Homo sapiens: one gene and its partners. The protein of the gene in region 1 interacts with the protein of each later gene in a biochemical or structural test. Each region holds a gene or a part of one and is shown in the gene's direction. Other genes may lie near its edges. The genes, in order: BRF1, RBL2 and RBL1.

Region 1 (3,651 bases):
TCCCTGCCAGGACAGGCTTCCCTGGCTGAGAGCCTAGACCTTCCTGCAACGCTTCACCCTCAAGCCCTGCCTCCCGTCGGGCACCAGGGCCTGGCCTCTGTGTGAGGAGCCAGGCGAATGTTTATCAAGTGATATCTGGGCCGGGGTAGAGACAATCCTGATGGTTGGGGCTGCTGTGTGGGTGGAACCCAGGCGAGTCACACAGAGCAACAGGCAGAGGGGACATGCACAGGCCCTGGGGCAGCCAGCGGCACAGTGACCCTGAGCAGAAAGGGCCATTCTGGCTGGAGCTGAGGAAGGGCTGCCTGTGAGTGCTGAGAGGAGCCGTCTCTGGCCTCGGCCCTGGAGCAGCATGGCAGGAGAGCACCTCAGACAGTCTGGCCCTGTGCTGGAGTTGACTTGGCAGCACGGGGCAGGCAGCTATGGCGTGGGGCTGTGGCAAGGAGAGGCTGTCCCAATTCCAGGCTGTGCAGATGCTGCCTGGACTGCGTGGGGCTGGGCAGGGGTGACAGGCAGGTTTTGGGGTGTCCTGAGCATGATCATGGAGGGCTCCCTCAGGCCTGGACTCCGGAATCATTTCTATTCCCTCATTTCTATCCCCAGACCTATGGGCTCAGTGATGGGGAGCTGGCTCCCCTGAGCACAGACCCCCATCTCACTCCGTGGCCTGACCTTTCCTTCCTGCCCAGCTTCCGTGCCCTCCCTCGGTCTTTGGGGCCTGACAGCCTCTGTCTCCTGTTCTTAAAAAGTTGCTTTTTTACAAAAAGCACAGAAGTGCTGGGGTTTTCCTTTGCAGCTTCAGTTCAGTGTTCTGCTGGCTTCGCTTAGTGTCCTGAGCTAGGCATTTAAAGAGGTGCGGTCATGTGGGCAGACAGGGCGCGACCCACCAGTGCAGAGGAGGGGACGGGGTTCTAGAAAGCCCTTAGCCCAGACCCAGGGTCCTGAGCCAGCCCAGGTGGTGGCCACGCTCCTATAATCAGTGCTGGCCCTGAGTGACGCGGATGCTGTGCTTCCCTCCAGAAGATGCTTCAGGAGACGGTGAGCTGGACCTCAGTGGCATTGATGACCTGGAGATTGACAGGGTACGTGGCAGCACCCCTTCCCAAGAGGGGCTGGGCTTGGGAGGGCGCTGCAGCCCAAGGAGCCCTGAGTGGTCGGGCGGGGTTGGCCACCTCCCCTGCCCAGAGCCCACCCCGCTGGGTGAAGTGGGCTCCTGGCCTTCTGGCCACTGTTCCCGGGACCCCCCCCCACACTCTCTTCTCCAGTGTCGGCTCGGGGGCGGCCTGTCGAGAGGCCCCTGGCTTTGCGCCTGGTCCTTGCGGCCCTCGGCACATAGCCTGCAGCAGGCACACATCGCACAAATAGCACCAGGGGCAGCCCCTCGAGGGGTCTCTAGACACAAGAGGGCACCCACTGACTCCACATGCGCTGTGCGCCCCCAAACCCCAGGGCTTCCAGCCATTGGGACCAGCTCTTTGCAGTTTATCTCAATATACTTGCCCTCTGTCAGGCAGGAAGTCGTCTTCCCTGATTTCATGGCCACGTGGTGCCTCAGACCCCTCCAGCCTGGCCCATCTGTACCTGAGTGGGAGGCTCTCACCCTCACTTGGCCCCTTTGTGGGAACCTGTGGCCTGCACTCTGGCTGGCCAGGGTCCTGGTGCCGGCAGGGCTTGCAAGCTGCCCTAGGGGGTCTCACACATGTGGCCTGCGTGGTTGGCCTTGGGACAGGCCACAGAGCAACAGGTCCCCAACTCGCCCCGCGCGATGAGGCCTCAGCCCAGGCTCCGCACTAAATAGAGGCTGCCCCGGGTTCCCCTTCCTCTAACGGTGGAAATACTTCCCGCTGGCCAGCGCGACCTTAGCATGCCCCGGTGTGCGAAGGCTAAAAGCCAGCCCCACTTCCCTGTGCTCGCCCAGTACATCCTGAATGAGTCGGAAGCCCGCGTGAAGGCCGAGCTGTGGATGAGGGAGAACGCCGAGTACCTGCGGGAACAGAGGGGTAAGCGCCACCCGCCCACACTCACACGCAGGACGCACAGTCCCCAGGCCTGGGGCGTGGGCCCTCAGTGACGCTGGCCCCCTTTCTGAACTTTTAGAAAAAGAAGCAAGAATAGCGAAAGAGAAGGAGCTCGGCATCTACAAGGAACACAAGGTGGGCGCCTGTGACGCTGGGCCTGGCCTTCTTGGGGGTGTCCAGGTTACGGGGGGCAAATGTCTCTGGAATGTCCCTTCCCCATGTGACAGGAGGGTCTAGGCCCCAGGGCAGGCAGCCGGAGGCCATGTGCTCTGGACCCCAGACCCACGTCCTTAACCACTAGGTCCTGCCCCGTGCTGGCCACAGGCGCCCAGCCGTCGGCCTCACCTTGGAGGGCGTGTGCTCAGCTTTGGGGTAACCTTCTGGATGCAGCACCGGGGCAGACTGTCGAGACTCGGGGCTGGACGCTGGGGTCCCTGCCTGTGTTAACGGGTTTGCTCTTCTGACGCCCTGGGAAAGTCCGACTGTCATGCCTCCCTGCCTTGTGGCCGTCACGGTGACTTGCTCTGCCAGCTTACTCTCTGGCGGAATGTGCCTTCAGCCTCGTGGTGCAGGCAGCAGTGGTTGAGCCTCTGAGTGACTGAGCAGGAGAAAACACGGGGAGCCAGTTCCCTGCCTGCGAGACTGGGGTCCCTCAGACGAAGCTGGAGGTGGCTGGGATGGCAGATGTGGGGCCTACCCGCTCAGCAGGACCCGGGGAGCTTGTGGTCAGAGAGTTAGGAGCCCAGGGACTCCACCCCACCCAGCAGCACGTCCCAGGCCTTGCTGGGCCACGCAGGAAGGTCATCGTGCAGCGGGGGGCAGCAGGGGTGGTGCAGGCTGATTGCCCTGAAGTGGTCTATGGCTCCAGCTCCTAGAAGGAGATCCAGGGTCTTCGGGCAGCTGGGGCCTTTGACGTGGGCAGCGGTGCTGGGGTGGATTGTCTGTCTTCACTGAGTAGCCATCTCTGCTGCAGCCCTCACAGTGCAGCAGCACATCGCCCTGCCGTGTGCATGTGGCCCTGCCCTGTGTGGGACCCAGGGGCAGCAGGGCCCTGAGCACCTGTGGCATGTTTGCTGCTGTTGCTGTCTGGAGGCCCTGCCAGCACCCATGCCAGGCCACGTGCCCCACTCACCTGGGAGGGCAGGATTTGACGTGGGCAGGCCCAGAGAGCACCAGGCTGGCCCACATTCTGGGGGGAGGAGGCAGGAGCGGCCCTTCTGAGGGCCTGAGCCAGGCCTCACCCGCCTGCACTCCTGGCCTCACGTGGAGCCCCTGATGGTGGAGTGCAGTGGGCGTGACTCACGGGAGGCATTCTTGCTTGTTTCCCTCAAGCCCAAGAAGTCTTGCAAGCGACGGGAGCCAATTCAGGCCAGTACCGCCAGGGAGGCCATCGAGAAGATGCTGGAGCAGAAGAAGATCTCCAGCAAGATCAATTATAGCGTGCTCCGGGGCCTCAGCAGCGCCGGCGGGGGCAGTCCGCACAGGGAGGATGCACAGCCCGAGCATAGCGCCAGTGCCAGGAAGCTGTCACGAAGGAGGACGCCGGCCAGCAGAAGTGGGGCTGACCCTGTGACCAGTGTGGGGAAAAGGTACCATCCTGTCCTGAGTGGCTGGGTTAGGGCAGCAGCCCAGG
Region 2 (3,651 bases), on another chromosome or scaffold:
ATGGTAAATTTTATGTTATATATATAACCACAATTTTAAAAAACTAGCCTGTAATACCAGCATTTTGGGAGGCCAAGGCGGGTGGATCACCTGAGGTCAGGAGTTCGAGACCAGCCTGGCCAACATGGTGAGACCTCATCTCTACTAAAAATACAAAAATTAGCCATGCCTTGTGGCATATGCCTCTAATCCCAGTTACTTGGGAGGCTGAGGCACAAGAATCACTTAAACCCAGGAGGCAGAGGTTGTAGTGAGCCGAGATCAGGCTACTGCACTCCAGCCTGGGTGATAGAGTAAGACTCTGTCTCAAAAAATAAAAAAAATAGTAACAATTTGCCCCAAACCATTGAATTGTATAATTTAAGTAGATGAAATTTATGGTATATAAACTGTTTTAAAAAAATAAATTATGCTTAACTGAATCCAAATCATGCATGTCCACCTTGCTTAAGAACATTATTGAGTTTTAATAATTTTTTATATGTGGAAAAAGACAGAGATCAAAATTGATAAAACCGGTGGCGGAATGCTCCTAGATGACATACTACCAATCAGGTCCCCTTATCAAGTAGTGGCTCTGTAGTAAAATCACATCTTACATGAGTGGTAGGTAGAAAGTGGATATGATAGAAAATATTATAGAAAAATATAATATAGAAAAATAGGGTAATTCCTTAAATTGCCCCTAAATCATGAAGGTTCTTTAGTAGTGGAAGACAGAGTCAGGTCTGATTTGGGAAAGGGGGCGTGGAGAAAGGAACACTGCAAGACAAAAAATTCCGTTTTAAAATTTTGCTCTCAGTAGTGTTCACTGAACACGAATGAAAGTTCACTAATGAATATAGGTAAGATATGACTTCTGTAATTCTTGTTTGCTTTTTGAATTATGAAGTATTTCAAACACTGTAGTTATTTTTTAACATAAGAGCTTGGACGGAAGTCAGATCTGAGTCTCCTTGAGTTAAATGCTTTGTTTGATTTGTTTTGACCCTAGGCATAACATCTCCAACCACATTATACGATAGGTACAGCTCCCCACCAGCCAGCACTACCAGAAGGCGGCTATTTGTTGAGAATGATAGCCCCTCTGATGGAGGGACGCCTGGGCGCATGCCCCCACAGCCCCTAGTCAATGCTGTCCCTGTGCAGAATGTATCTGGGGAGACTGTTTCTGTCACACCAGTTCCTGGACAGACTTTGGTCACCATGGCAACCGCCACTGTCACAGCCAACAATGGGCAAACGGTAACCATTCCTGTGCAAGGTAAGGAAGGCAGAGTTGGATATTGAGTTCCTTCTCTGTGGCATGTATTGAAAAGTTACCCGAGGTTTGGCTAGAGTGACATAGGGGACAGAGGAGTGATGGGGAGAGAGGGTTTGGGAGAGCAGAAATTGTAAACCTCTGCCCGGAGAACCTCTTATTATCAACATTTTCTTCATGCTTTTTTTCTCTGTCACTAGGTATTGCCAATGAAAATGGAGGGATAACATTCTTCCCTGTCCAAGTCAATGTTGGGGGGCAGGCACAAGCTGTGACAGGCTCCATCCAGCCCCTCAGTGCTCAGGCCCTGGCTGGAAGTCTGAGCTCTCAACAGGTGACAGGAACAACTTTGCAAGTCCCTGGTCAAGTGGCCATTCAACAGATTTCCCCAGGTGGCCAACAGCAGAAGCAAGGCCAGTCTGTAACCAGCAGTAGTAATAGACCCAGGAAGACCAGCTCTTTATCGCTTTTCTTTAGAAAGGTAATTTTTCACATACCTTATCAGAGCATGAGCTTGGGAAATACAAGTGTTAAACAAAGTTTGAAATGTTTTTATCTCCTAGGTATACCATTTAGCAGCTGTCCGCCTTCGGGATCTCTGTGCCAAACTAGATATTTCAGATGAATTGAGGAAAAAAATCTGGACCTGCTTTGAATTCTCCATAATTCAGTGTCCTGAACTTATGATGGACAGACATCTGGACCAGTTATTAATGTGTGCCATTTATGTGATGGCAAAGGTGAGTACCATTTGGAATTGTAAAGGCAAAGATAGGTCTTCATTACTGAGAACATTTTTTAACCACTGTCTTGAGATACAGTTTACATGCTCTATAATTCACCTATTTAAAATGCACAACTAAATGGGTCTTAGTATATTCACAGATATGTGCAATACTCACCACAATTTTAGAACATAATATTCCATTGTATAGTTATATGAGAGTATTTTTATCCATTTATTAGCTAATGTATATTTTAGTTGTTTCTACTTTTGGCATATATGCATAATACCACTATTAGCATTTGTGTTTGGGTTTTTGTATAGACATGTATTTTCATTTCTCTAGGGTATATACCTAGGAATGGGCTGCTGGGTCATACATTAACTGTGTTTTAACTATTTAGGGAATTGCTAGATTGTTTTCCAAAGTACTGTACCATTTTACACTTACACAGCAGTATAATAAAGATTTTAGTTTCTCCACTATCTCATTAACACTTACTATCTTACTTTGTTTAAATAACTTATTGAGGAGAAATTCACATAACATAAAATTAATTGGGTTTTTCTTTTTTTTTTTGAGATGTTGTTTCATTCTTGTCACCCAGGCTGGAGTGCAGTGGTGCATCTCAGCTCACTGCAACCTCTGCCTCCCAGGTTCAAGCGATTCTCCTGTCGTAGCCTCCCGAGTAGCTGGGATTACAGCCATGTGCCACCATGCCTGGCTAATTTTTGCATTTTTAGTAGAGATGGGGTTTGACCATGTTGGCCAGGCAGGTCTCAAACTCCTGACCTCAGGTGATCTGCCCACCTCGGCCTCCCAAAGTGCTGGGATTACAGGCATGAGCCACTGGGCCCAGCCAAATTAACTATTTTAAGTTGAACAATTTAGGAGCATTTAGCACATTTACAGTACTAAGTGTAATAAATGGTTGTATACTCACCACCTCTGTCTAGTTCCAGAACATTTCCGTACCTGCAAAGTAAAACTCCTTTCCTATTAAGTAGTTTCTCCCCATTCTACCTCCCACAGCACCTGGCAACCAGCAGTTGGCATTCTGGCTGTATGGATTTATCTGTTCTTAATCGTTTATAGAAATGGTACAATATGTGACCTCTTGTGTATGGCTCCTTTTACTTAGGATAATATTTTCCAGGTTTACCCATGTTGCAGCATGTATCAGTACTTCATTCCTTTTTATGACTGAATGATATTCCATTGTATGGATAGGCACAATTTTTTTCTCCACTCATACACTGATGGATATTTGGGCTGTTTCCAACTGTTGGCTATAGTGAATAGCACTGTTGTGAACAGGTATATCATGTACCTGTTTGAGTGCCCATTTTCAGTCCTTTTGAGTTTATTCCTAGGAGTGGAACTGCAGGGTCATATGGTGATACTATGTTTAACTTTTTTGAAGAACCACCGTACCATTTTCCACAGAAGCTGCACCATTTGACATTGCTACCAGTAATGCACAAGAGTTCCAGTTTCTCCACATCCTTGCCAACTTATTATTTTTATTATAGCCATCTTAGCGGGTATTGGGTGATATATCATTGTGGTTTTGATTTTCATTTGCCTGATAACTAAGGATGTCAAGCATCTTTTCATGTGCTTACTGGCCATTTGCATATCTTATTTGGAGAAATATCTTTAAAT
Region 3 (3,651 bases), on another chromosome or scaffold:
AATCCTAGCATTTTGGGAGGCCAAGGCAGGCAGATGGCTTGAGCTGACGAGTTCGAGACTAACCTGGGCAACATGGCAAAACTCCCATCTCTAAAAAAAAAATACAAGCCGGGCACAGTAGCTCACTCCTGTAATCCCAGCACTTTGGGAGGCCGAGGAGGGCAGATCATGAGGTCAGGAGATCGAGACCATCCTGGCTAACATGGTGAAACCCTGTGTCTACTAAAAATATTTTAAAAATTAGCCGGGTGTGGTAGCATGTGCCTGTAGTTCCAGCTACTCAGGAGGCTAAGGCAGGAGAATTGAACCCGGGAGGCAGAGGTTGCAGTGAGCCGAGATCACGCCACTGCACTCCAGCCTGGGCGACAGAGCAAGACTCCATCTCAAAAAAAAAAAAAAAAAATTTACCAGGCATAGTGGCTTGCACCTGTAGTCTCAGCTATTTGCGGGGGTTGAAATGGGAGGATCACTTGAGCCCAGGAGGTCGAGGCCACAGTGAGCTGAGATGGCGCCACTGCACTCCAGCCTGAGTGACCAAGTGAGACCCTGTCTCAAAAAAAAAAAAAAAAAGAATTCAGTCATAACCTAGAATTACTATTTTGTAGCCTTCTTATACACACAGATATATGTATATATAATTGTCAAAATATATATAGTTGACAACTTTCCTAGAACATATGCAGATTATTTCTAATAATGCTTATACATTCAGGTGTCGCAAATGATGCTGGAGAGATCACACTGATACCTCTTTCCATGAATACAAATCAGGAGTCCAAAGTCAAGAGTCCTGTATCACTTACTGCTCATTCATTAATTGGTGCTTCTCCAAAACAGACCAATCTGACTAAAGCACAAGAGGTACATTCAACTGGAATAAACAGGCCAAAGAGAACTGGGTCCTTAGCACTATTTTACAGAAAGGTATGTGTTTTTATAGCACTTTAGAAGAATTTGTTTAATCAATGGAAGAAAGATTGAGTAACAGAGACAGACTTTGGTCTTTTTTTTTTCTAATATACATAACACAAAATTTACCATTTTAACCATTTTTAAGTGTACAGTTCAATGGTATTAAATACATTCACATTGTTGTGCAGCTTTATTACTACCGTCTATCTCCAGAACTTTTTCGTCTTCCCATTCTGAAATTCTGTATCCATTTCTCCCTTTCCCCAGCTTCTGGCAACTACTATTCTACTTTCTGTTTCTGTGAATTTGACTACTCTAGGTTCTTCCTATGAGTGAAGTCATACGATATTTGTTTGTTTTTGTGACTGGCTTAGCGTAATGTCTTCTAGGTTCATTCATATTATAGCTTGTGCCAGAATTTCCTTCCTTTTCAAGGCTGAATAATATTCCATTGTATGAAGAAGAGAAAAAAAGAACAAAAGAAAAAATATTCCATCATATGAATATACTTTTTTTTAATACCACATTTTGTTTATTCATTCATCTGCTGATGGGCATTTGGGTTGCTTCTACCTTTTGGCTATTGTGAGTTATGCTGCTATGAACATTTGTGTACAGGTGTCTGTTCAAACCAGGCGTGGTTGCTCATGCCTGTAAACCCAGCACTTTATGAGGCCGAGGCAGGAGGATCACTTGAACCCAGGGGTTTGAGACCACCCTGGGCGACACAGTGAGACCCTATCTCTATTTTAAAAAAAAAAAAAAAAAAAAGCAGCCAGGTATGGTGGCAGATGCCTATAGTCTTGGCTATTTTGGAGGCTGAGGTGGGAGGATCACATGAGCCCAGGAGGTTGAGGCTACAGTGAGTCGAGATCACACCACTGCGCTCCAGCCTGGGCAACAGAACGAGGCCCTGTCTTAAGAAGAAAAAAAAATAGCAACAAATATCTATTCAAGTCTCTGCTTTCAATTCCTTTGGGTATATTCCCAGAAATGGGAGAGTAATTTAGTATTTCATTTTCTGAGGAACCACCGTACCATTTTCCACAGTGGGTGGACCATTTTACATTACCACTAGCAAGGCACAAGTGTTCCAAGTTCTTCTCATCGTTGCCAACGTTTCGTGTTTTCTGGTTTGTTTGTTTTTTTGATAATGGCCATCCAATGGGTATAAAGAGACATCTTACTATAGTTTCAATTTTCATTTCCCTAATGATTAGTAATATTGAGTATCTTTTCATGTGCTTTTGCCCATCTATATATCTTCATTATAGAAATGTCTATTCGAGTCTTTTGCCCATTTTTTTAATTATGAGTTTTGGGTTTTGTTTTTGTTAAATTGTAGGAGTTCTTTATGTATTCTAGATATTAATCTCCTATAAAATATACTATTTACAAGTATTTTCTCCCATTCTGTGGGTTGCCTTTTCATTCCGTTGATAGTGTTCTTGACACATGAAAGTTTTTAATCTTAATAAAGTCAATTTATTCTTTTCATTTTTTGTCTGTGCTTTTGGTGTCATACACAAGAAATCATTGCCAAATCCAGTATTATAAAACTTTTCCCCTATGTTTTCGTCTAAGAGTTTTATAGTTTTTAGCTCTTATATTTATTATGTCTATTTTTTTTTGAGACAGAGTCTCACTTTATCACCCAGGCTGGAGTGCAGTCACGCAGTCACAGCTCACTGCAGCCTCCGCCTCCCAGGTTCAGATGATCCTCCCACCTCGACCCTCTGAGCAGCTAGGACTACAGGCATGTGCCACCATGCCCAGCTAATTTTCGTTTTTTGGGTTTTTTGTTTTTGTTTTTTTTTTTTTTGAGACAGAGTCTCACTCTGTTGCCCAGGCTGGAGTGCAGTAGCGCAATCTCGGCTCACTGCAACCCCTGCCTCCCGGGTTCAAGCAATTCTCCTTTCTCAGCCTCCTGAGTAGCTGGGACTACAGGAATATGCCACCACGCCTGGCTAATTTTTGTATTTTTAGTAGAGACGAGGTTTCACCGTGCTGGTTTGGCTGGTTTCAAACTACTGACCTCAGGTGATCCACCCACCTTGGCCTCCCAAAGTGCTGGGATTACAGGTGTGAGCCACCACGCCGGGCCTGTTTTTGAACTTTTTTGTAGAGACGGGGTTTCACCATGTTGCCCAGGCTGGTCTCAACTCGTGAGCTTAAGTGATCTGCCCACCTCAGCCTCCCAAAGTGCTGGGATTACAGCCGTGAGCCACCACGCCCAGCCCATTTTAATTTTTGTATATGGTGTTAGATAAGGGTCTAAAGTCATTCTTTTGCACATGGATATCCATTTTTCCCAGCACGATTTGTTGAAAGACTGCCCTTTCCCATTGAATGAGCTTAGAATCCTTGTTGAAAAGTCACTTGAGCATAGATATGGGGGTTTAATTCTGGGCTCTCTATTCTATTCATTGGACTATATGTCTATCTGTATTCAGTACCACACTGTTTTGATAACCATAGCTTTGTGTCATAAGTTTTAAAATCAGGAGGTGTGAGACCTCCAACTTTGTTTTTCTTTCTTAAGATTGTTTTAGCTATTTAAGATTTCTTGAGAGTCTGTATGAGTTTTAGGATGGATTTTTCTCTTTCTGCAAAAACATTGTGGAATTTTGACAGAGATTGCATTGAATATGGAGATCGCATTGGCTAGTGTTGACATCTTAAGAATGTCAAGTCTTCCAGTCCATGATCATAGGATGTCTTTTCATTTGCGTCTTCTTT

What was found.
Region 2: the proteins of BRF1 (region 1) and RBL2 form a complex in vitro, tested with the Homo sapiens proteins (one study listed by BioGRID).
Region 3: the proteins of BRF1 (region 1) and RBL1 form a complex in vitro, tested with the Homo sapiens proteins (one study listed by BioGRID).

The regions. Positions count from the first base shown.
Region 1 is NC_000014.9:105,217,500-105,221,150, reverse strand, and holds part of BRF1 (transcription factor IIIB 90 kDa subunit), read left to right. Parts: intron 1-1,020; coding exon 1,021-1,082; intron 1,083-1,852; coding exon of another isoform or gene 1,853-1,918; coding exon 1,919-2,000; intron 2,001-2,097; coding exon 2,098-2,153; intron 2,154-3,350; coding exon 3,351-3,607; intron 3,608-3,651.
Region 2 is NC_000016.10:53,468,922-53,472,572, forward strand, and holds part of RBL2 (retinoblastoma-like protein 2), read left to right. Parts: intron 1-994; coding exon 995-1,264; intron 1,265-1,461; coding exon 1,462-1,742; intron 1,743-1,824; coding exon 1,825-2,001; intron 2,002-3,651. UniProt on the Homo sapiens protein: Key regulator of entry into cell division. Directly involved in heterochromatin formation by maintaining overall chromatin structure and, in particular, that of constitutive heterochromatin by stabilizing histone methylation.
Region 3 is NC_000020.11:37,029,938-37,033,588, reverse strand, and holds part of RBL1 (retinoblastoma-like protein 1), read left to right. Parts: intron 1-712; coding exon 713-924; intron 925-3,651. UniProt on the Homo sapiens protein: Key regulator of entry into cell division. Directly involved in heterochromatin formation by maintaining overall chromatin structure and, in particular, that of constitutive heterochromatin by stabilizing histone methylation.